3 linked regions of the Homo sapiens genome follow. The protein of the gene in region 1 purifies or fractionates together with the protein of each later gene. This does not show direct contact. Each region holds a gene or a part of one and is shown in the gene's direction. Other genes may lie near its edges.

Evidence for each region.
Region 2: the proteins of POC1A (region 1) and AKIP1 purify together in Homo sapiens (co-immunoprecipitation; 2 studies listed by BioGRID and IntAct, with this or other methods). This does not show direct contact.
Region 3: the proteins of POC1A (region 1) and TXNDC9 purify together in Homo sapiens (affinity purification with mass spectrometry; 2 studies listed by BioGRID and IntAct, with this or other methods). This does not show direct contact.

Annotation. Positions count from the first base shown.
Region 1 is NC_000003.12:52,095,416-52,102,441, reverse strand, and holds part of POC1A (POC1 centriolar protein homolog A), read left to right. Parts: intron 1-5,729; coding exon 5,730-5,873; intron 5,874-7,026.
Region 2 is NC_000011.10:8,906,969-8,914,192, forward strand, and holds the start of AKIP1 (A-kinase-interacting protein 1), read left to right. Parts: upstream 1-4,220; 5' UTR 4,221-4,255; exon of another isoform or gene 4,256-4,475; 5' UTR 4,476-4,481; coding exon 4,482-4,703; intron 4,704-5,484; coding exon 5,485-5,565; intron 5,566-7,224. UniProt on the Homo sapiens protein: Enhances NF-kappa-B transcriptional activity by regulating the nuclear localization of the NF-kappa-B subunit RELA and promoting the phosphorylation of RELA by PRKACA.
Region 3 is NC_000002.12:99,319,330-99,326,355, reverse strand, and holds part of TXNDC9 (thioredoxin domain-containing protein 9), read left to right. Parts: intron 1-4,146; coding exon 4,147-4,401; intron 4,402-4,572; exon of another isoform or gene 4,573-5,230; intron 5,231-6,556; coding exon 6,557-6,674; 3' UTR 6,675-7,026. UniProt on the Homo sapiens protein: Significantly diminishes the chaperonin TCP1 complex ATPase activity, thus negatively impacts protein folding, including that of actin or tubulin.

The DNA of each region.
Region 1 (7,026 bases):
GATTGGAGTTATGTAGCCATAAGCAAAGGAATTATGGAGCCACCAGAAGCTGAAAGAGGGAAGGCAGCATTCTCCCTTAGTGCCTCCAGAGGAAATGTGGCCCTGCCTTGATTCAGACTTCCAGAACTGTGAGAGAATTAATTTAGATTGTTTTACGCCATCAAATGTGACAATTTGTTACAGCAGCCCTAGGAAACTATTAATAATATATACTTCATGTTGTTTTGGTGCTATTGAAAAGATAATGGCCAAGAATTTTCAAAAAATAATGAAAGGCATCAAACCATAGTTCCAAGAAGCTCAGAGAAACAGCAAACAAGCTGGAGAAAAACAAAACAAAACAAAATCCTAGATGAGTTATATTCAAACTTCTGAAAACCAAGGATTAAGAAAGAAATCTTGAAGGTAGCCAGAGAAAAAAAGACATATATATGTGGATCAAATGTAAGAATTATGAAGAATTCTCGTGAAACTATACAAACTGAAAGAGTAACATCTTTAAAGTTTGAAAGAAAAACTGCCAACCCAAAGTTCTGTACTTAGCAAAAATATTTTAGCAATGATGGGGAAATAAGACCTTTTTTTCCCCTCCAGAAAAACCAAAGCTGACAATTTTTTACCAGCAAATTTGTATTATAAGAAATATCTAATTTCTCTCTCTTCTCCTTCTAGGATTCCAATTGTCCATGTGTTAGAGACAGTATTGTCTTGTAGCTTATGGAAGCTCTGTTCTGTTTTATCCCTCTGTGTTTCAGTTTGAGGAATTGATCTATCTTTAAGATCACTAATTTATTTTCCCATTGAGCCCATTATAGCCATACTTCTCTGTTACTGGGTTTCTTATTTCTGTTGTTTCCATTTGACTCTTTCTTATAATTTCTGCCTTTCTGCTGAAATTCTCCATTTGATCATGTGTGTTATTCAGTAGAGCCTTTACCATATTAATCATAGTTATTTTAAATTTTGTATCTCATAGTTTCAACATCTAGGTCATCTGAGTCTGCTTCTACTGACTGCTTTGTCTCTTGACAGTGGGGTTTTTTTTTCTCCCTGCCTTTTTGTGTCTCATAATGTTTTATTAAATGCCAGGCATCATGCTTAGGACAGTAAAGACTGAGGTAAATAGTCTTATCAGGAGTTGAGCTTAGTTTAGTGTTACCTAACGTACCTAGGATGAGGTCTGGTTGATGGAGGATTTTCTCAGTCATTTTCCTCACTCTCACCTTTCAGCCAGCCCTGTGGGCATGCCCCTCAGAGGGGCATGCTTTTTTCCATGTTCTTGGCCCTCCTCCCTAGATAGGCTGCTGTTGCTTATTGCTTGGTGCTTGATATTTTTTTTTTTTTTTTTTTTGCTGAGGGTTGGGGTGGGCCCTGTTGTCTTGACCCAGCTTCAGTCTTAAGCAGACTCTGTCTCCCTGGGTCTCAAAAGTGAGACATTCTTAGCGGTCCTGCTCCTTCCTCATTCAAAGGAGACCTTGATAATCTCAGCTCAGGATAGTTTCCTGCCTCTCCCTCAAGGGAAGAGGTGTTTTTATATTTGCTTTTCCCTAGTAGTTTCAGGATGCTCTTCTACAGGGGAGAGGTCCTGGCAGGGCTTCATACCTTTCCTTACTCACTCTCCTCTCCTAGGCCTGCACCTCCAAGAACGGTTTTCTTCCATCTACTGTTCTGCCCCCATTTTTTTTTGTCATGAAAGCCCAGTGGAGGTCTGTGGAGGAGAACCTGTGCATGGGTGCAAGCTCTACTTGTGTCTGTGGCACCTGGGGGTTCTGCACTCTTACCCTAGTCTGCGCTTGGTCTCCAGCAGTTTGTTAAAACTGTAACTTACCCACTCGTATGGTATTTGGCGTCTCTTCTCCTCATGCTTTGCCATAGGTGACCCACAGCTGATGCTCACTTTCTATTTTCCTTGGAAGTGTCTGTCTTTCCTTAGATTTCAGGCTACTGGTTGCTCTGTGACTTCAGCTCTCTGATTTAAGAGAAGTTATGATTCTTTTAGATTGTCAGTCTTTTTCTTGTTAGGAAGGAATTAACACTTTCCCCAGCTTTATATATCCTAGGCAGCAGCTCCTTATCCATACTTGTATCTTGATGGAAGAGGGAGATCACGGTCAATTCAGAGACCTCTCAAGAAGTCAACTCCAGATGGGTTGATTTCTTGTCACAAGGAAGATCTACAAGCTGTTTCTTTTGTTTTTAATGAAATGTTATGGTTTGGTTCCTCATGTGTCTGGGTAGCTGAGTATCAGCCACAGACATTTAGGCAATTCCTACTGTGTGTGAAGTGATGAGCTCCTGGTGGTGTATGAAAAGCAGGCAGCAGAGGAAACAGGAACTGAGGTGGGCAACACATTAACCAACTGTGAGAGGCCAGAGTCCCACCCCAGGGTGGCATGAGAGGAGACACCTGCAGACCCCAAGTGATATTTCCCAAAGTTAGAGCCATCTCTTGAGAGTCACCTTTTTTTGTTTTGGTATTAAGATGTTTATATTTGGCAAAAGTGAAATGTTGTTGAATTGGTGTAGGCCTATACGAGTATATGTGTGGATTAATCTTTGTTGTTATTTTAGTGAGCATTACTTTTTCTTTTGAGACGGAGTCTTGCTCTGTTGCCCAGGCTGGAGTGCAGTGGTGTGATCTCAGCTCATTGCAACCTCCACCTCCTGGGTTCAAGTGATTCTCCTGCCTCAGCCTCCCGAGTAGCTGGGATTACAGGTGCCTACCACCATGCCTGGCTGATTTTTGTATTTTTAGTAGAGATAGGGTTTCACCATATTGGCCAGGCTTGTCTTGAACTCCTGTCCTCAAGTGATCCACCTGCCTTGGCCTCCCAAAGTGGTTGGGTTACAGGTGTAAGTCACCGTGTCTGGCCTCTTTGTGTTATTTTATTCATGTTATACTTAACTGAGAACCACCAGGCAAAACCCCTAGGACTCTTTGATGTTGAACAGACAAAATGCTGATGTGACTTTTGCATTTAAATGCTGCTTGGGTTATTCTGCCACTGTCATTACTCATGGCTCTGGTACGACTGTCTCTTCCCACTCTTGTGTGTCATTTTCTTATCTCTGCTTTCTTGCTTATTTGCCCAGCTCTCAGGGAAATGCCACAGCTCCAGAGTGCTGGCATGCAGGTGAGTGGCTACAGAGCTGTGAGGGGTGGGGCTGCTGGCCCTTTGCTGCAGTGCAGACATTGGGGAGGATTCATTACACAGGAATTTTACCTCGGTGGGCCCTGCTCTTTGAGGTGTTGAGTGTTTGTGGAGGGCCTGCTCTGAGTTCAGCTCTGTGCTGGGCAATCATTCCAGGGCAGCTGGGTTGGGGAAGTGACGCAAAAAGCATTAGACCTAGGATTCAGAGGCCTCCATGGGGACGTTGGAGAGGAACTGTGCACATGGAAGCCCAGCTGCAGTCAATGTCACCTGCCAGAGGCTGTCTCATGTCCGGGAAGAGCCTGCACTTTGGGTTCAGATCCCAATTCTGTTATTTGCTGGGTAACTTAGAACAAGTTACTTAACCTCTTTGAGCCCAAGGGTCCATATCTGAAAAATAAGGTTAATAATGCCTATTGGGAAGGGCCATCATAAGGATGAAGTGAGGTTACACGTATTAAGTGAGGTGACATTAAATGAGGGCACACAGTGGATGGCAAGTAAACCATGGCGATTGCTGGACTGGTGGAGTGTTAAGTGCTGTGGTGTTTTCTGATGGGAGTGGGCAAGGAGGCAGGGAAATGGCTCAGGGCAGCACTAGAGTTTGAGGCTGGTTACCTTTAGACAGTCGTTTTCTGACTGAGCCTTAGTTCTCTTTATTGTCAAATGGAGACAGCCCATGAAAGTGTGGTATAGGTGGGAAAACATGGTGGCTGCCGCAACCCTCTGTTGTAAAGGCCACCTCTCCAGCTTGGAGTGCCATGGCCGCTGTCTTTAATACTCCCTTGGAGCTGGCTCAGCTTTGGCTCATCCAGGAGGGTTTCTATTGCTAAAGTCAGTGGTACTCACCCTGCCTCCCTGCAGCATCCACTGTGCTTCCAGAGGCTGAGCTCAGCACTGTCCATTTCTGGGCCATTCTGCAGAAACTCACATTTTCCATTCCCTCCTTCCTAAGCAGCCAGCAGCACCAGACTCTGGCCCATTCCATGACAATGCTGGCTGTGGGACAGAAGAGTTCCCTGCTCACACCCTTCCTCCAGTGGAAGAGTGTGTGTCTGCACTGCTAGGGGGTCCTCTGGAAGGAGTGGGCACAGCACTGAACATTTCTTAAGAAAGGCCTGCTGGTAGCTTCAGATAAGCACCTCTCACAGCCCAGCCGTTTGAAGGACTGGCCCAGTCTTCATCCCTATTTTATAGATGAGGAAATGGAGGCCCAGAGCTGGTCAGTGACTGTCTGAGTCACCATTCCTCACCACTGCACTCTGCTGTGTCTCCTGACAGAACTGCCTTAGTCTGGGGGCCACTGTGGTAGGCTGAAGTCTCTCCTGGCAAGGCTGGTGGACTTCTGAAATTTCCTTTTGGGATGGGCTTCTGGGTAAGCATTGAGATCTGAAGCACGTTGATTCCTGGAGGACTGGAAGAGACCCAGCCCTGATGGCCGAAGTCTTAGAAATGGCCACGGAAGTGGCCGACATGCTGATGATAGGTGTGTGGACACGGTGCTGCTCATGCTGTCAAGAACATCCCTCTGGCTCATGTCTCACATTCAAGTTCTCCTGTAGCTACCATGAGGGCCAGCATTTTTCCAAGTTCAAATCAGCATGCCCTTGAAAGTTTGTGATCTATGAGAATAGAATACTTACCTAATAAAGGAAAACATGCAGGTAGGGTCCATGTGCTGAACCACATTCCCACAGGAACAAGTCCACAGAGGAACTGCAGGCTCTAAGACCAGCCCTGCCCTTGGACATCCTTGGCTCCAGCATCCCGCCCACTGAACATGTGCACAGCACTTCTTCGGTCCACAGAAGCCTTTGTGCATAAGGCAAGGAGCTGACTTTGCTGAATTTAGGGGCTGAAGGGCCTTACGCAGAAACACTAAGCCCCTCACCTCCTGGAGTCCTATCTGAAGCAGCCCAGGGGTGCCTTTCCTGTGGAGTCTGATTCCTGCCAGCCATGTGCCAGCCTGGGACATGCACACAGAAATCTTTGTTTTTCCAGGGGATCTGGGCCAGGGTGGGGTTGGAACACCCCTCTCCCCGCCACACACACACTTCCACCAAGTTCTGGGCCACAGCTTCTTGGGCCTGGGAAAGGCATTTGTGAAGCCTGGCACACCCCCATGTTGAAGGGTGGGGAATTAGAGTTGAGCTGACCAGGAAGAGGAGGGACTTCAGGCCCAGGCCAGGCTTCAGCATCTCTGGACTCACCTGGATGCCTGCTGGTGGGTGCCAGCTGCTTGAAGATATGGGAGGCAGCTAGCTTCCCTGAGGGGCTCCAAGAGCAGGCTGAGGCCACTCACTGGCCTGCCTACCTGCCCTCCTCCCCAGGCCCCTTCCTGCCTGGATCACAAGGCATTCTGATTCCACTCCCCACTTAAGGCCTCTGCCTGGAAAGGTATGTGTGTGGACCCAGATGTGGGAACACCGCCACGCTGCTGTTTCTTACTGACACTTGGAGCTTACCTTCTCAAATTTGCTGGTGGTTTTCCCTTTCATCCTTTGGAGGGGCTATTCCTCTCACAGTATTTCTTCAAGCACTGGATAGACTGAGGAACTTTTTTCTTTCTGTCTTTAGCCAGAAGTGGACTTCCCTGTCCCCCCAGGCAGAGGCAGGAGTGTGGAGTCTGTGCAGAGCCAGCCCCAGGAGCCCGTGAGTGTGCCCCAGACACTGACTAGCACGCTGGAGCACATTGTGGGCCAGCTGGATGTCCTCACTCAGGTAGGCCACACTGTGGGTTCACCCGTCATCCCGTCATCTGCACTTGGTCCCGCATTTGGACCGTTTGAAGTTGGACAACAGGTGCTGGATTTTTAAAAACATAATTATAACGGACCTGTTTTCCAGTCCATATTAATGACATTGCAGAGCCTTCCCGGGGATCCTGGCTCTTGGAGCCATTCAAGCCCTGGCCAGACCACTAGACTCCAAAATCCCCAATGCTGGGTACTACTGGAGTGTGCTCACCTAGAGCTGGCCTGGGCCACTGAAGAGCTTTGAAAGAAACACTGTGTTTGTTTATTCCTCCCACTCTTTGCTGGATGGGCACTGCAGGGGCATGCCAGGGAACTGAGTAGTGAGTCAGGGCTTCTGAGAACCTAGGCTATGAGTTTGAGCCTGGACCTTTCCTTATCCTCTGTGCAACCTTGGGGAAATCCCTTTAGTTCACCAAGCCCTGGTATGTTTATCTGTAATGTGCTGGTGGTTGTGGGCTCTGCCTGCCACATTCATGGTGAGAATTAAGGGAGATGAATCTGGGAAATGTTTGGCCCATGCCTGGCCCTAGGTAGCTGCTCAATAAATGTTAGTTGTGGCCCTGACCACCCTCGTCACTGAGATGGATATGGGCCCTGCCCTCTGGAGCGTAGGTTGGCAGCCATAACACAGGCTCGTAGTGTAGCAGTTTCAGTAAGAGCAAAATCCCTTGACAAGAGGTGGTGGCCAGCAATAGGGGCATGCTTGGCAGGGCCATTTCACCCGAGGGAGGAAGAGAGGTCCTGGCTGCCTGTGGCTCTGGAGAGGCCATGGGCACGTCCAGGGAATGAGTGAAGCTCCAGGTGGCTGTCATGTGGATATGTGGTCTTGGGGTGGGGGGCAAGGCAGGATTTAGAGGTTCCCCAATTCCTCATCTCCTTGGCTCTTGAGGCCAGGCTGGGACTCTGCAGATCCTCCTCTACCATGCCAGCACATGGGTAGAGCGAGGCTGCAAGAGGGACACATGTGGCCCACGAGGAAAAGAGGTGTTAAAGCCAGGGGGTGGGGGATGGGGAAGCAAGGAAGAGTGGTCTCCAGTCCAGCTCACATGAAGGACGCAAAGGACCCTTGATGTCACTAACGGAAATGGAGCTGAGATGGCATGGTATCCTTTCCCCAG
Region 2 (7,224 bases), on another chromosome or scaffold:
CCTGGGTTTTTAACCCTTTTTGGCCCCCTTCACATAAAGAAAAGGAATTTACATTGCTCTTCACTGGACTTGTTTTTTCTCCTCAAAAAGTCCCAAATACAGCACCAGTCTCTTTCCCCATTTCACAATTAAAGACCTCTTCCAACGCATCTCCTCCAAAACATAGAACCCTGACAACTAACTTTCATCTGTTCTCATTAGTGAATTTACCCTTGTGAAGATAGAAGTCATTAAAAACTCATATCAATAGTTTATTTTTCTGTCAATACTGACAGTCTATTTCCCTGTTGACCAGGCACATTCCTAATTAGTTGCCCTCTCTCCATTTACAATTCCATTTTCAGTTCTCACCAGTGGCTTTCATTTGGCGTGGGCTATATTTGATCCACAAGGGGCCTGATGGTAGGTCATGTTCTATCATTATTCCCAGCCAATCTTAAAAAAGATAAAAAGGAATCTCTCAAGTCTCTCAATCTGTGGTTTACAGGATGAATCTTTAAAATTATAAATATGCACATATAAAAATATATTTACAAATATATTTACAAATAGAAAAATAAAAACAAATGCAAAGATTTAATTTAGAGTCTTTTGGTTTCAGTTTCATTTCAAGCATCTTCTTTCCCATAAATTTCTAAATGTTAAATTCTGAGAAAATGTAGTTACAATTGAATATTCATTACATTCATTAAAGTTCATGTAGGTAGGTGTTTTTTTAATAGAAAAGCCAACTCTTTTTTTTCTTAAGATAGGTTCTTACTCTGTTGCCCCGGCTGGAGGGCAGTGGCACGATCATAGCTCACTGCAGCCTCAACATCCTGGACTCAAGCAATCCTCCCATCTCAACCTCCCGAGTAGCTAGGACTACAGGTATGAGCCACCATGCCAGGCTAGTTTTTTAATTTTTTAAAAAATAGAGACAGGGGTCTCACTATGTTGCCCAGGCTGCTGTCAAACTCCTGGCCTCAAGTAATCCTTCCACCTCAACCTCCTGAACTTCTGGGATTACAGGTGTGAGCCACCACAAAGCCACCTCTTTATGTGGGCTAACAGAAGTCTATTTAACTTAAAAATTAAATCAGAGTAATTTCAACAAATGGCTACTGAACACCCGCTACTTAACAGGTCCTGGAATGTTTAGGGACAAATAAGGAACAGTTTCTGCCTTCAAGGAATTGAAAGGCTATTGGGAGAGAAGAAACCATAACTACACATAATTTAAATTAGATTGGAAAAGTACACACAAAAAATTTTTTTAAGGCTATGGCAACAGAGGTGGCAACTGGGAACCACTGGGAAAAGTTTCAAAGAGCTGACCTGACAAAAAGAAAGTAGTGCCTCAACTGGAATGACTAAAATAGAATGGGGAAGAGAGACAAATGAGATGAGGTGTGGCTATGATACTGGGTAAGTGAGAGCATATTTTGGGAGACCAGGCTGAAGCTTAAGATAATAATACTAGCTAATATTTATTGAGCACCTACTATGTACCAAGTACTATAAATGCACTTTATAGATATTAACTTACTTGATATTCACAATAACCCTATGAGGAATGTGCTAAAACCTTGAAATCCATAAAAAATAAAGAGGACCAAATTCTGTCCCACTCCAACCACACTTATTGTAAAAGCAGTTAACGGGTATCTTATCTACCTCTTCTCTCACTGATTCCTAGGCCATCAGGCCTAGCTTGAAAACTACATTCTCTGCAAAACCTTTCTTGATCCTCCCAGCTGAACATAGTCTCCTAAGCTTGATAGCATTTTATCTGTGTCAATCTTATGGCATGTCCGAATATTTTGTTCTTGGTATTATAGATTTTATGTGCATTCTTTCCTCTTTTTTATTCTCCTTTAGTCTGATCCACATTCTGTTCTCCACAACTCCTAGGGCAGTGCCTGGCACATACTAATGCTAGCTAAGTCTATGGAGCACTTATCTTTGCCGGGCACTGTGCTAAGCATTTTACAGGAATTATCTCACAGAATCCTAATGGCAACCCAATTCACACATTCAAGGGCTATTTTTAGTCCTTACTGTGACAGACAAAATAGTAAATACTAGATGCACCTTAAACTCTAAACACTACAGATACAGTCCCTTCCCTCAAGAAGCTCAGTCTAAAGAAGTTAGTACTATTGGAATCCCCAGATATAGAGATGAGGAAAAGTGAGGCTCAAAGAAGTAATATGTTTGCCCAGAACCACAGAGCAAAAAAGTGGCAGAGAGCCTGGGCAACATAGGGAGACCCTGTCTCTACGAAACATTTAAAAAATTTGCAGGGCGTGGTGGCTGAAGAAGAGGATCGCTTGAGCCCAGGAGGTCGAGGCTGCAGTGAGCCGAGATCGTGCCACTGCACTTCAGCCTGGCTGACAGGGTGATACCCTCGTTTCTTTATTAAACAAAAAAGAAGAAGAAGGAAGAAGGAAGAAGAGGAAGAAGAGGAAGAGGAAGGAGGAGGAGGAGGAAGAAGGAGAAGGAGAAGGAGAAGGAGAAGAAATGGAAAAAAAAAGATGGCAGAGCCAGAATTCAAACCAGCTCTCCCGAGTGGATATACAGGACCCCATGCACGTACAACCACTATGTTCTAAAGGAGGCACTTGATAAACCCTTATTGAAGGAAATGTTTTGGAATACCAATAAAATGAAAAAAAAATCATCTCAAGAATAATGTAGGGTTTCACTCACTGTTATTCTTTTTTATAAGGGGAAAGCAGGAAATTTGCAAAAGTTAAGTAGCATAGAAGGAGGTCGTATTGGTCGGCTACTACTCACCTGGTACCTGATAATTGCTCATCAAGCCATCTGTTGAGACTAGGTGAGGATGGAGTTTCTCTCCTTTTTCATGAACCACAGAGGAGACTTAAAGGAGGATTTATTTGTGTTCCTTAAAGTGACCCCCACTGAGCGTGTCCCTCAAAGTGGACCTTCCTAAGCATCGGCGCTTTGCTTTGCGCTGGGTGGTGCGGCTGAGTCACTAATTAGCAGTGAGAGCCTGGGCTGTATCTCCTACCAAATAACCAGCGGAGTGGAGTGACAGGTCCTTACTTAAACATGGTTTAAGTAAGCATTCACAGTTCCTTACTTAAACATGGTGCAGTCTTCCTAAAAGATGGAGTCAGACCCCAAGAGAACAGGTCTCCAAAAATATGTGAATCCGTACTTCCCACTGGAGGGGAGAGAGAGCTGCGCTGAGGGATTATGAGAGACCCTACAACTTCTCAGGCGCCCCCTGCCCCGGGGGCCAGGAACATCTGCAGACAGCCCCGCCTCCGTCTCGCCTCAATCCCGAGCTGTTCCCTTCTCCAAAGGCCACCTTGGCAGCCACACAGTTTGGCCTAATCACCTCCTCAAACAAGAGTAGCGACACCCCAAAATGTAGACCAAGCAGAAAGAGGCGCGGGAGGCACTTGCCTTATTCCCCATGATGTTTTTGTTTTGAGACGAAGTCTTCCTCTGTCGCCCAGGCTGGAGTGCAGTGGCGCGATCTCGTCTCACTGCAACCTCCGCTTCCCGGGTTCAAGCGATCCTCCCACCTCGACCCTCCCGAGTACCTGGGACTACAGATGCGCGCCACCACTCCTCCTACTGTGTGTGTGTGTGGACACGGGTTGTCGCTATGTTGCCTACCTAGCTGGTACCCCATAACCACTCCTGGCTAGTGTGTGTGTGTGTGTGTGGACACGGGTTGTCGCTATGTTGCCTACCTAGCTGGTACCCCATAACCACTCCTGGCTAGTGTGTGTGTGTGTGTGTGTGTGTGTGTCTACACGGGTTCTCGCTATGTTGCCTACCTAGCTGGTACCCCATAATTTTTTAGCTCAACAGGAGACCTGCCTTTATACCCACCAAGTTAAGCAGCGCAGTAGCCCTCTAAGGGCCAGCCCCACGCCCAGAGGCTCCTCTGACAGCGTGGACAGATGCCCTGGGCTGCTGGCTCGACTCAGTCCTCAGCCCCCAGCCCCCGACCCCCGACCCCCGGCCCCCGACCCCCGACCCCCGGCCCCCAGCGCCCGGCGCCCCGCCTCCAGCGCTCAGCAGTTAACCAGGCAACTCGCGCGCAGACGCCAAGGCTGGGACGCAGAAGGCGTGTTTGGCCGCCCAGCCGCCCCGCCTCCCCCACTTCTCCCGCCTCTCCCGCCTCTCCCGCCTTCCGCCAATGGCCCAGCTGCGCCGGCGCCGCCGGGAGCGCTAGGCCTGGTCCCTCTTCCTAGAATAGCGTTGCGCGCATGCGCCTTGACGAGTGAGCCGGGTGAGGGGGCTCCCTAAGTAGCGGAAGGGGTAGATGAAAATGGAAGGGGCGGGCGCGCTAGGCCTAGTCCTGGCTGGGCTCCCGCTGGAGTGTGCGTTGGGGGCGGACCAGGAGCGGTGGTCTCCAGGGAGGTCGAGGCTGGGGCTCCCACCCGGATTTGGAGCAGGGTCGCCGCGGCCCAGCTGACCCGCCGGCGTTTGTACGTTGTGTGCCCACTCAGGGAGCCATGGACAACTGTTTGGCGGCCGCAGCGCTGAATGGGGTGGACCGACGTTCCCTGCAGCGTTCAGCAAGGCTGGCTCTAGAAGTGCTGGAGAGGGCCAAGAGGAGGGCGGTGGACTGGCATGCCCTGGAGCGTCCCAAAGGCTGCATGGGGGTCCTTGCCCGGGAGGCGCCCCACCTAGAGAAACAGCCGGCAGCCGGCCCGCAGCGCGTTCTCCCGGGAGAGGTGAGGGTCGCTGTGCCGGGGGCCGCCCCAGTCCTTCGCGCCGCGGTAGCCCGCTGGGAGCCAGGGGTGCGCAGCGCAGAAGCAGCTGAGGAAACCTTCCCTTAGCGGAAGCTGGAAAGGATCAGAACAATGAATGGAAAAGTCCTTTCAAAACGCTTTACATTTGACAGATTCTTGTTGGGTAGCTGTAGAATAACGGTAGTGTTCAGCCCTGGTTGGTTACTTAAAAAAAAAAAAAAAAATTAGCCGGGCGCGGTGGCTCATGCCTGCAATCCCAGCACTTTGGGAGGCCGAGGCGGGCGGATCACCTGAGGTCGGGAGTTCGAAAGCAGCCTGACCAACATGGAGAAATCCCGTCTCTACTAAAAATACAAAATTAGCCGGGCGTGGTGGCGCATGTCTGTAATCCCAGGTACTAGGGAGGCTGAGGCAGGAGAATCGCTTGAACCCGGGAGGCGGAGGTCGCGGTGAGCCGAGATCGCGCCATTGCACTCCAGCCTGGGCAACAAGAGCGAAACCTCCGTCTCAAAAAAAAAAAAAAAAAAAAAATCTTACAGCTATCATCTGATAGTAGAGGAAAGCCTGCAAGCCTGTCTCTTAGATCCTGGATAAATTGCATGTCTATCTTTTAGAGTTGGAATTCTTTCTCAATAACATCGTTCTTTCTGACATAAACTTGCAGAGCCTTTCCAAAAGTAAAAAGGAGACTATTTCCAAAATGGCTTCATTCTCCAGTAGGGAATCCTAGAGCTAACCTGTGACGTGCCATTTATTCAAATAGAGAGAAGAGAGACCCCCAACCCTTAGTGCTTCCTTCAGAACAATGGCTGAATTCATGGACTATACTTCAAGTCAGTGTGGGGTAAGTTGGTGTGAACCAAAACTATGCCCCATCACCTGCTGATGGACCACATTTGGATCTTTCTGGAATTTACGGAGAATCTGGACACTACCTGTTTCTCCTGCCCAGCCTTCACGGTCAGATTGTAATCAGTCAAGGACTTAAACCAGGGGGTAAATCCAAGTTAGAATTCACCCAATAAATGTTTATTGAATGCCTAACCCTGTAGCTGACAATATAGCAATGAAAAGTCAGAAAAGGTCTTCTGCCCTCAGTGATCTTTCAGTCTAGTGGGGGGAAAATAGCTTATTTGCCGAATTTCATAGCAAATAAGTTAAATATTAGGGGTTTTTTTTAACTTTTTTTTTTTTTTTTTTTTTGAGACAGAGGCTTGCTCTGTGGCACAGGCTGGAGTGCAGTGGTGTGATCTCGGCTCACTGCAAGCTCTCCCTCCTGGGTTCACACCATTCTCCTGCCTCAGCCTCCCTAGTAGCTGGGACTACAGGCGCCCACCACCACGCCCAGCTAATTTTTTTTTTTGTATTTTTAGTAGAGACGGGGTTTCACTGTGTTACCCAGGATGGTCTCCATCTCCTGACCTCGTGATCCGCCCGCCTCAGCCTCCCAAAGTGCTGGGATTACAGGTGTGAGCCACCGTGCCCGACCTTTTTTTTTTTTTTTTAATTGAGACAGAGTCTCACTCCATCACCCAGGCTGGTGTGCAGTGGCTCAGTCTCGGCTCACTGCAACCCCTACCTCCTGGCCTCCTGGTTCAAGCGATTCTCCTGCCTCAGCCTCCCGAGTAGCTGGGACTACAGGCACATGCCACCATGCCTGGCTAATTTTTGTATTTTTAGTAGAGACAGGGCTTCACCATGTTGGCCAGGCTGCTCTGGAACGCCTGACCTCGAGGGATCCGCGCATCTTGGCCTCCCAAAGTGCTGGGATTACAGGCTTGAGCCACCATACCCAGCCAAGTCATCTTTCGATACTTAGGGAATGTTGAGGGCAGGCCAGAAAACATTCAAGGAAATTACCTGCATGGAAGGCACTGTCTTCTAGGAATTACAGCAGGCTCTGGCCTCATGCAGTCTTAACACTTGGTGAGTCCTACATGGTTTTAAGGAGGCTGATCCACAAAGGAGATGGAAGAGAATACCTTGTTTCTGCCCTGCTTTTCAGTTTCATATGTTAAGATCTCAAAAAACTCTAATCTTTCTACATCTTTTATAAGAATCCCTGACTCCAAGAATAGGATTCCAACCAAAGAGGAATACTTCAGGGAATATTTTTATCTTATTTGTGTTGTTCAGTGGTTTTACAAAAATCAATAGCCTCAACTCTACTGTAAAGTGATTAAACCCTTGGTTCATGGTTCAGCAAAAGGAATAATATTTGTCTTTGGTTTGAGGTTTAGCAAATTGCTGTTCTTCATTTTTGTTTTCAGTTCATGCTTCAGTTCAAGTCTCTGTTATGAAATGGAGCCTCAGAACCTCTTGGCTTTCTAGAGATAGAATTAAGAATTGTGTACTGGGTTTGTCTCCACAGTTTGAAGCAGCCACTAAAACACATCTTTAGGTCTGTGTCCTCAAGTGCTTTCCCCAGCTTCTCGTTCTTCTGGTCACATGTTTTTTAGACAGTGTGCCTACCCTGTTCAAAACAAGCAGGGCTGTGATGTCA
Region 3 (7,026 bases), on another chromosome or scaffold:
TGTGGCCTTCTTGCCCCTTTGTCTTGATCTCACAACCCAACAGCTTCATTGTTAGTTAACACCTTTCAAGAATTGATTGCCTGGTATTCATTGACTAAGAGAATAAAAATGAAACAAAATATTGAGATGGTGAAATCCCTTGTGAGGAACAGTGAGAGAAGGGATTAGGCAGGTAGAAAGGTATCAGAGAAACCTCTGCCCTTATGGTACACAACCATCTCGCATTGGCACACATTCCTCAAGTTGCCAACCTCTGACAAATATGATGAGGTGATATATAAATATACTAGTATGTAAAATATTATTTGTCCACTTGTTTTTTTTTTGTTGTTTTTTTTTGTTTTTGAGACAGAGTCTTACACTGTCACCCAGGCTAGAGTGCAATGGCAGGATCTTGGCTCACTCCAACCTCCACCTCCCGGGTTCAAGTGATTCTCCTGCCTCAGCCTCCCGAGTAGCCAGGGCTACAGTCACCCACCACTACACCCGGCTAACTTTTGTCTTTTTAGTAGAGACAGGGTTTCTCCAGATTGGCCAGGCTGGTCTCAAACTCTTGACCTCAGGTGAACCACCCACCTTGGCCTCCCAAAGTGTTGGGATTACAAGTATGAGCCACGGCACCCGGCCTCACTTGTTTTTTTTATGTCTTTCCCAACTAGATTGTTCGTTTTGTAGAGGCAGCGCATTTGCCTGTATTGTGACCTACTGTTCTCTGGGATCATAGCCCTAAAGCAACTGCCTGACGCATAGTAGGTGGTCAATAAATACATTTGATGGTGTATAAACAGTGCATCACCAGGAGTACTCACCTTCAAACAGAACTGAAAAATCAAAATCATCCAGTGAACTTTATATATTAGCAAAGTTCCTAGCACATAGTAGGCAGGATGCTTTCATGTATATTATCCCTAGAACATTCACAATAATCTTCAGAGGCACTTATTATTATTCCTGTATTTCATGTATGGAAACCAAGATTTGGAGAAATTGACTCACCTAGTATCACTCAGATACTAAATGATAAAAAAAAGAGAGAGATTGGAACCCATGTTTTAAGCCTATTGCTATTTTTTTAATTTTTAACTTTTGTGGGTAGTAGTAGGTAAATATGGGGTACATGAGATATTTTAACACAGGCATGCAGTGTTTAATAATCACATCAGGGTAAATGGAATATCCATCACCTCAAGCTTTTATCCTTTGTGTTATAAACAATCTAATTATGCTCTTTTAGTTATTTTTAAACATACGTAAAGGCCTATAGCTATTTATACCATGACTGTTGTTTTGGATTTTTAAAAATTGATTGACGGGTTGGGCGCCATGGCTCATGCCTGTAATCCCAGTACTTTGGGAGGCTGAGGCAGGTGGATCATGAGGTCAGGAGATCAAGGCCATCCTGGCCAACATGGTGAAAACCCATCTCTACTAAAATACAAAAAGTTAGCTGGGCATGGTGGCTCGTGCCTGTAGTCCCAGTTGTGCAGGAGGCTGAGGCAGGGGAATTGCTTGAACCTGGGAGGCGGAGGTTGCATTGAGCTGAGATCGTGCCACTGCACTCCAGCCTGGCAACAGAGCAAGACACTCTGTCTTGCTCTTTAAATACAAATTAAAATTAGCCAGGCAATGGTGCGGGTGCCTGTAATCCTAGCTTCTTAGGAGGCTGAGCCAGGAGAATTGCTTGAACCCAGGAGGTGGAGGTTGCAGTGAGCAGAGGTCGTGCCACTGCACTCTAGCCTGGGCGACAGAGCGAGACTCCATCTCAAAAAAAAAATACGTTCCTTACTGCAGTTAAAGTATGGAGTTGATTTATTTACAAATTTTCAGGAACATATTTCTCATATAAAGGTTGATTTATCATTTGTTTTGAGCTTTATTTAAAAACCATTTATTAATTTGTTCTCTCTTACCATTTTTCACTGAAATCTCGTTACTGAACTACATGAGTAACATATGAAAAAACATATCCGGGGAAAAAGTGATGAGGCACCAAGGTTACACATAACTTATGTTAGAGCCAAACTTAGTTCAGGAAAAACTACATCAAGTGCACAAAAAGCTTACTGGTAAAAATAACCATGAAGTATTTTGTGTGTGAGTCATCTAGAGGTAGTTCTCAAGCTTTATTTGAGCATAAGAACAGCTGTATGTTTCCCAACTCCACTGCCAGAGAATTTTGATTCATCTGGATATTTTAAAAGTTGACGGCAGGCTGGGTGTGGTAGCTCACACCTCTAATCCCAGCACTTTGGGAGGCTGAGGCAGGTGGATTGCTTGAGGTCAGCAGTTCAAGACCAGCCTAGTCAACATGGTGAAACCCCATCGCTACTAAAAATACAAAAATTAGCCGGGCGTGGTGGCAGGTGCCTGTAATCCCAGCTACTCGGGAGGCTGAGGAAGGAGAATCGATTGAACCCAGGAGGCAGAGATTACAGTGAGCCGAGATCGCGCCACTGCACTGCAGCCTGGGTGACAGAGTGAGAGTCCAACTCAAAAAAGATGAATAAATAAAAGTTGATCATAATGAACACCTGGGGTTAAGAACCACCGGTCTAAAAGATTGTTACAATAGTCTGTTTTAGAAACACTCGTGAATTGGCCAGTTGAAAATGAATTTTTTGAGACAGAGTCTTACTCTGTCGCCTAGCCTGGAGTGCAGTGGTGTAATCTTAGCTCACTGTAACCCCCACCTCCCAGGTTCAAGTGATTCTCGTGCCTCAGCCTCCTGTGTAGCTGGGATTTCAGGTGCCCATCATGACGCCCAGCTAATTTTTGTATTTTTAGTAGAGATGGGGTTTCACCATATTGACCAGGCTGGTCTTGAACTCTTGGCCTCAAGTGATCTGCCCGCCTCAGCCTCCCAAAGTGTTGGGATTACAGGCGTGAGCCACTGCATCAGGCCAGAAAATAAATTTTAATGTAAAGAAGATGTCACTTTTTTTGTTTGTTGAGATGGAGTCTCACTATGTTGCCCAGGTTGGAGTACAACGGCACAGTTTCGGCTCACTGCAGCCTCCACCTCCCAGGTTCAAGTGATTCTCCTGCCTCAGCCTCCCAAGTAGCTGGGACTACAGGCATGCACCACCACACCCAGCTAATTTTTGTATTTTTAGTAGAGACAGGGTTTCACCGTGTTGGCTAAGCTGGTCTCAAACTACTGACTTCAAGTGATCCGCCTGCCTCAGCCTCCCAAAGTGCCAAGATTACAGATGTGAGCCACCGCACCTGGCCAAGAAAATCTCACTTCTGTTTCCGTCTTCATTGGAAGATGGCTTAATAAAAGTTACTACTGGTAGGCTGGGTGCAGTGGCTCACGCTTGTAATCCTAGCACTTCGGGAGGCCGAGGCAGGCGGATCACAAGGTCAGGAGATCAAGACCATCCTGGCTAACACAGTGAAACCCCGTCTCTACTAAAAATACAAAAAATTAGCCGGGCATGGTGGCAGGCGCCTGTAGTCCCAGCTACTTGGGAGGCTGAGGCAGGAGAATGGCATGAACCAGGGAGGCGGAGCTTGCAGTGAGCCGAGCTTGTGCCACTGCACTCCAGCCTGGGGGACAGGGCAATACGCCACCTCCAAAAAAATAAAAAATAAAAAAGTTACTACTGGTATTTTTTAATTTCCTAGAAGCATAATGGCCACATTTATTTAAATATTATTAGTAACCCTTAGCCTTAATGTGCTTCTTACTGACAGCGTTGCATATTTAGGAGTAAGAAGTTTTTCCTCGGTAATGCTGTTCAGTTTTTCTTCATGACTTCCAAATATGGCACCATGTGTGCACTTCTGATTCTTGTAAGTCTCTTCCGAGTTTTGTCAAGTTTCAGTTTGTTCCTCTTCAAGTTTCCTGTGTAGGAGATAGGACAACTTCCTTTATGACTTAAAGCATATATTTAATATTTTAAAAGAGAATATCATTAATGCAAATCTGACTTTCTAGAATCTTATAGGCTGTTTTCCCATCTCGTAATCAGGCAGCTAACCTCTGATCTGGAAGTGAGGTCATCTGACACAAGTTTAAGTTGGCTGCCATGTTATGAGAGTCAACAGAAAAACTACATAATTAGATTTCCCTTGATGATATTTATTTTGAAAAAAGCGATCTGTGGTTTTAGCTTATAATTTTCTATGTGTGGTCACTTACAGGTGTAAAATACTAGACAGACATCTGGCAATATTGTCCAAGAAACACCTCGAGACCAAATTTTTGAAGCTGAATGTGGAAAAAGCACCTTTCCTTTGTGAGAGACTGCATATCAAAGTCATTCCCACACTAGCACTGCTAAAAGATGGGAAAACACAAGATTATGTTGTTGGGTTTACTGACCTAGGAAATACAGATGACTTCACCACAGAAACTTTAGAATGGAGGCTCGGTTCTTCTGACATTCTTAATTACAGGTAACTTTTAACAAAAGAAGAGATTGATTTTAATTCATATATAGTTGATATTTTTACAAAAGATTTTTGTATTGTAACATTTATTTTATGAAATTAAGGCATTTTGGCTGAGATGTGGAAAGTTTCTCAAAGGAAAAGCATGTTTTTTTGAAGTGTGTAATATTAGCGTGATTTTACGGCAAAATCAGATTTACAGATTAAACTGATTTAATAGGTAAAACTGAGTCTCACCGTACTCCTGACTATAAAAGTTTTCAGCTTAACGTATACTATTGACACTAATTTTGTATTAATCTGGAAACTTAAAATGGCAATCCAGTGTTGACTATTCCCCAATTTAAGCCAGATTGCTCAAATGAATTCTGACTTAAGTGATTCTCTTTGATAAAATAAAAATTAAAAGCAGACTCTTGCAAAGAAAGTTATATTTTAAAATACTAGATTTTTAACATGGATATTTCTGTTTTACTTATAGAGGCTGATGAATAGAAAAAGGTTTCTATGCCTAGCTTACATTGCTTGCTATGAAGAACAGTTTTAGTTTGAAAACAATCTAAAATCCAACTTCCATTTCTTTGTCCACTTCTTCAGACAAATAATTTATCTAATTCCACAAATCAGAGCATATCATCTTGTCTTTTTTGCCTTTTCTTGATTTGCAAAAGTAACAGGTAAAATTGTGCACTTACCATTCCAGAGTCATGGTGCCTTTCAGGAAGTAGAAGGTTCTCTCACGTTTTTCTTTCTCCCCCATTTCCCTCCCGTCTTTTCTCTGACTCTCCTAGACATGCCGAAATCATTCCTATGTTGTAGAAATTGGTTTCATTTCCTTAATATTAACATAAAATATTAATATTTATTAAATAAAGTTATATATTTTGAAGTAATTTTAAGCCTTAAACAAATTGCAGCCGGGTGGGGCACTTGTGTAATCTCAGAAGATTACAGACTTTGAGAGGCTGAGGTGGGAGAATCAGTTGAGGCCAGGAGTTTGAGACCAATTTGGGCAACATATAGTGAGATGAGACCTCGTCTCTACAAAAAACTAGTAGAAACAACCCCCTGCAGACTAGTACAACGAATCCTCATTGACCCTTTGCCCATATTACCCAATTTTAAACATTTTATATTTGTTTTATCATTGTCTTTATAGATACTATGAAGTATTTTGGGAACCATTTGAGTGGAAATTGTGAATACAGTGTCCCTTTACTCCTAAAGACTTCCATATATATTTTCTAAGAACAAGAACATTTTCTTACGTAGCGACAGTACAATTATTGAAACAGGAATTATTGTGTAATTTACCGCTCTTATTTCAAGTTTTCTCATTGTCCCAATAATTGTCCTTCATACCAAAAATGCAGCACATTTAGTTATTACGTCTTTAGTTACCATTGTTATTCTTTGGTTCTTAAGACTGATGTTTTTGAAGAGTACAAACTGTTTATTTTGGAGAACATCTCCCAGTTTGGGTTTGTCTTAAATTTCCTCAAGATTAGATTCAGATTATCGATTTTTGACGGGCATATTATGGAAGTGATGCATCATATCGGGAGGTGTGTGATGGTTTCTCTCATTTCCGGTGACAACTGAGCACTGTGTTAACCAAATGTTAATCCATAATTAATGATAAAAAGGAAAATAGGTCTGGTGCAGTGGCTCATACCTATAATCCCAGCACTTTGGGATGCCAAAGCAGGAGGATTGCTTGAGCCTAAGAGTTCAAGACAAGCCTGGGCAATGTAGTGAGATGTCATCACTACAAAAAATGTAAAAATTAACTGAGCATGGTGGCACACGCCTGTAGTCCAAGCTACTCGGGAGGCTGAGGTGGGAGGATCGCTTGAGCCCAGGAACTGGAGGTTGCAGTGAGCTGTGATCACACCACTGCACATCAGCCTGGGCCACAGAGTGAGACCCTGTCTCAAAAAGAAAGGAAAATAAAATTGATCTAAAACATTCAGTAGGACACAATAAGGTTTAAGGCTATTAACCATCAATATCAATATAAGCATTATACCTCTTCCCTGACACCAGCATTTTAAAGAAATTTTATTCTATGTTACAGGAAGAAAACAAAGATAGATTTTTGTGCAGTTTAGTATACTAGTACTAAATCATAAAGAATAAAATGCTTTTTTTTTTTTTTAAGTGGAAATTTAATGGAGCCACCATTTCAGAACCAAAAGAAATTTGGAACAAACTTCACAAAGCTGGAAAAGAAAACTATCCGAGGAAAGAAATATGATTCAGACTCTGATGATGATTAGAGCTCAATAATTCTTTGTAAATTGTCTTTTTTTTTCTGCTTCAGATTTAAATGTGTTTTTAAAATTCTATTAATGTCTATACATTGGTCACCTAAATACTCATATTCTCGAGTTTTATACAGTTGTATCACATCGAAAAGTGTCTTTACTGTTTTCTGTGTGGCCATCATGTTTAAGTTGAGGAAAACTCAGTTCTTAAATTATCTGGGAAGGGTCTGGATTCTCTATTTTTGAGATTGACTTTATCACAATATGATTCTTACATCTTTATACCATTTACAATTGTGTTTTAGATCTACAGAGTTAGAAATTCGAAAACTATTCCAGGACTAATTCTTAATCGGCATTATTT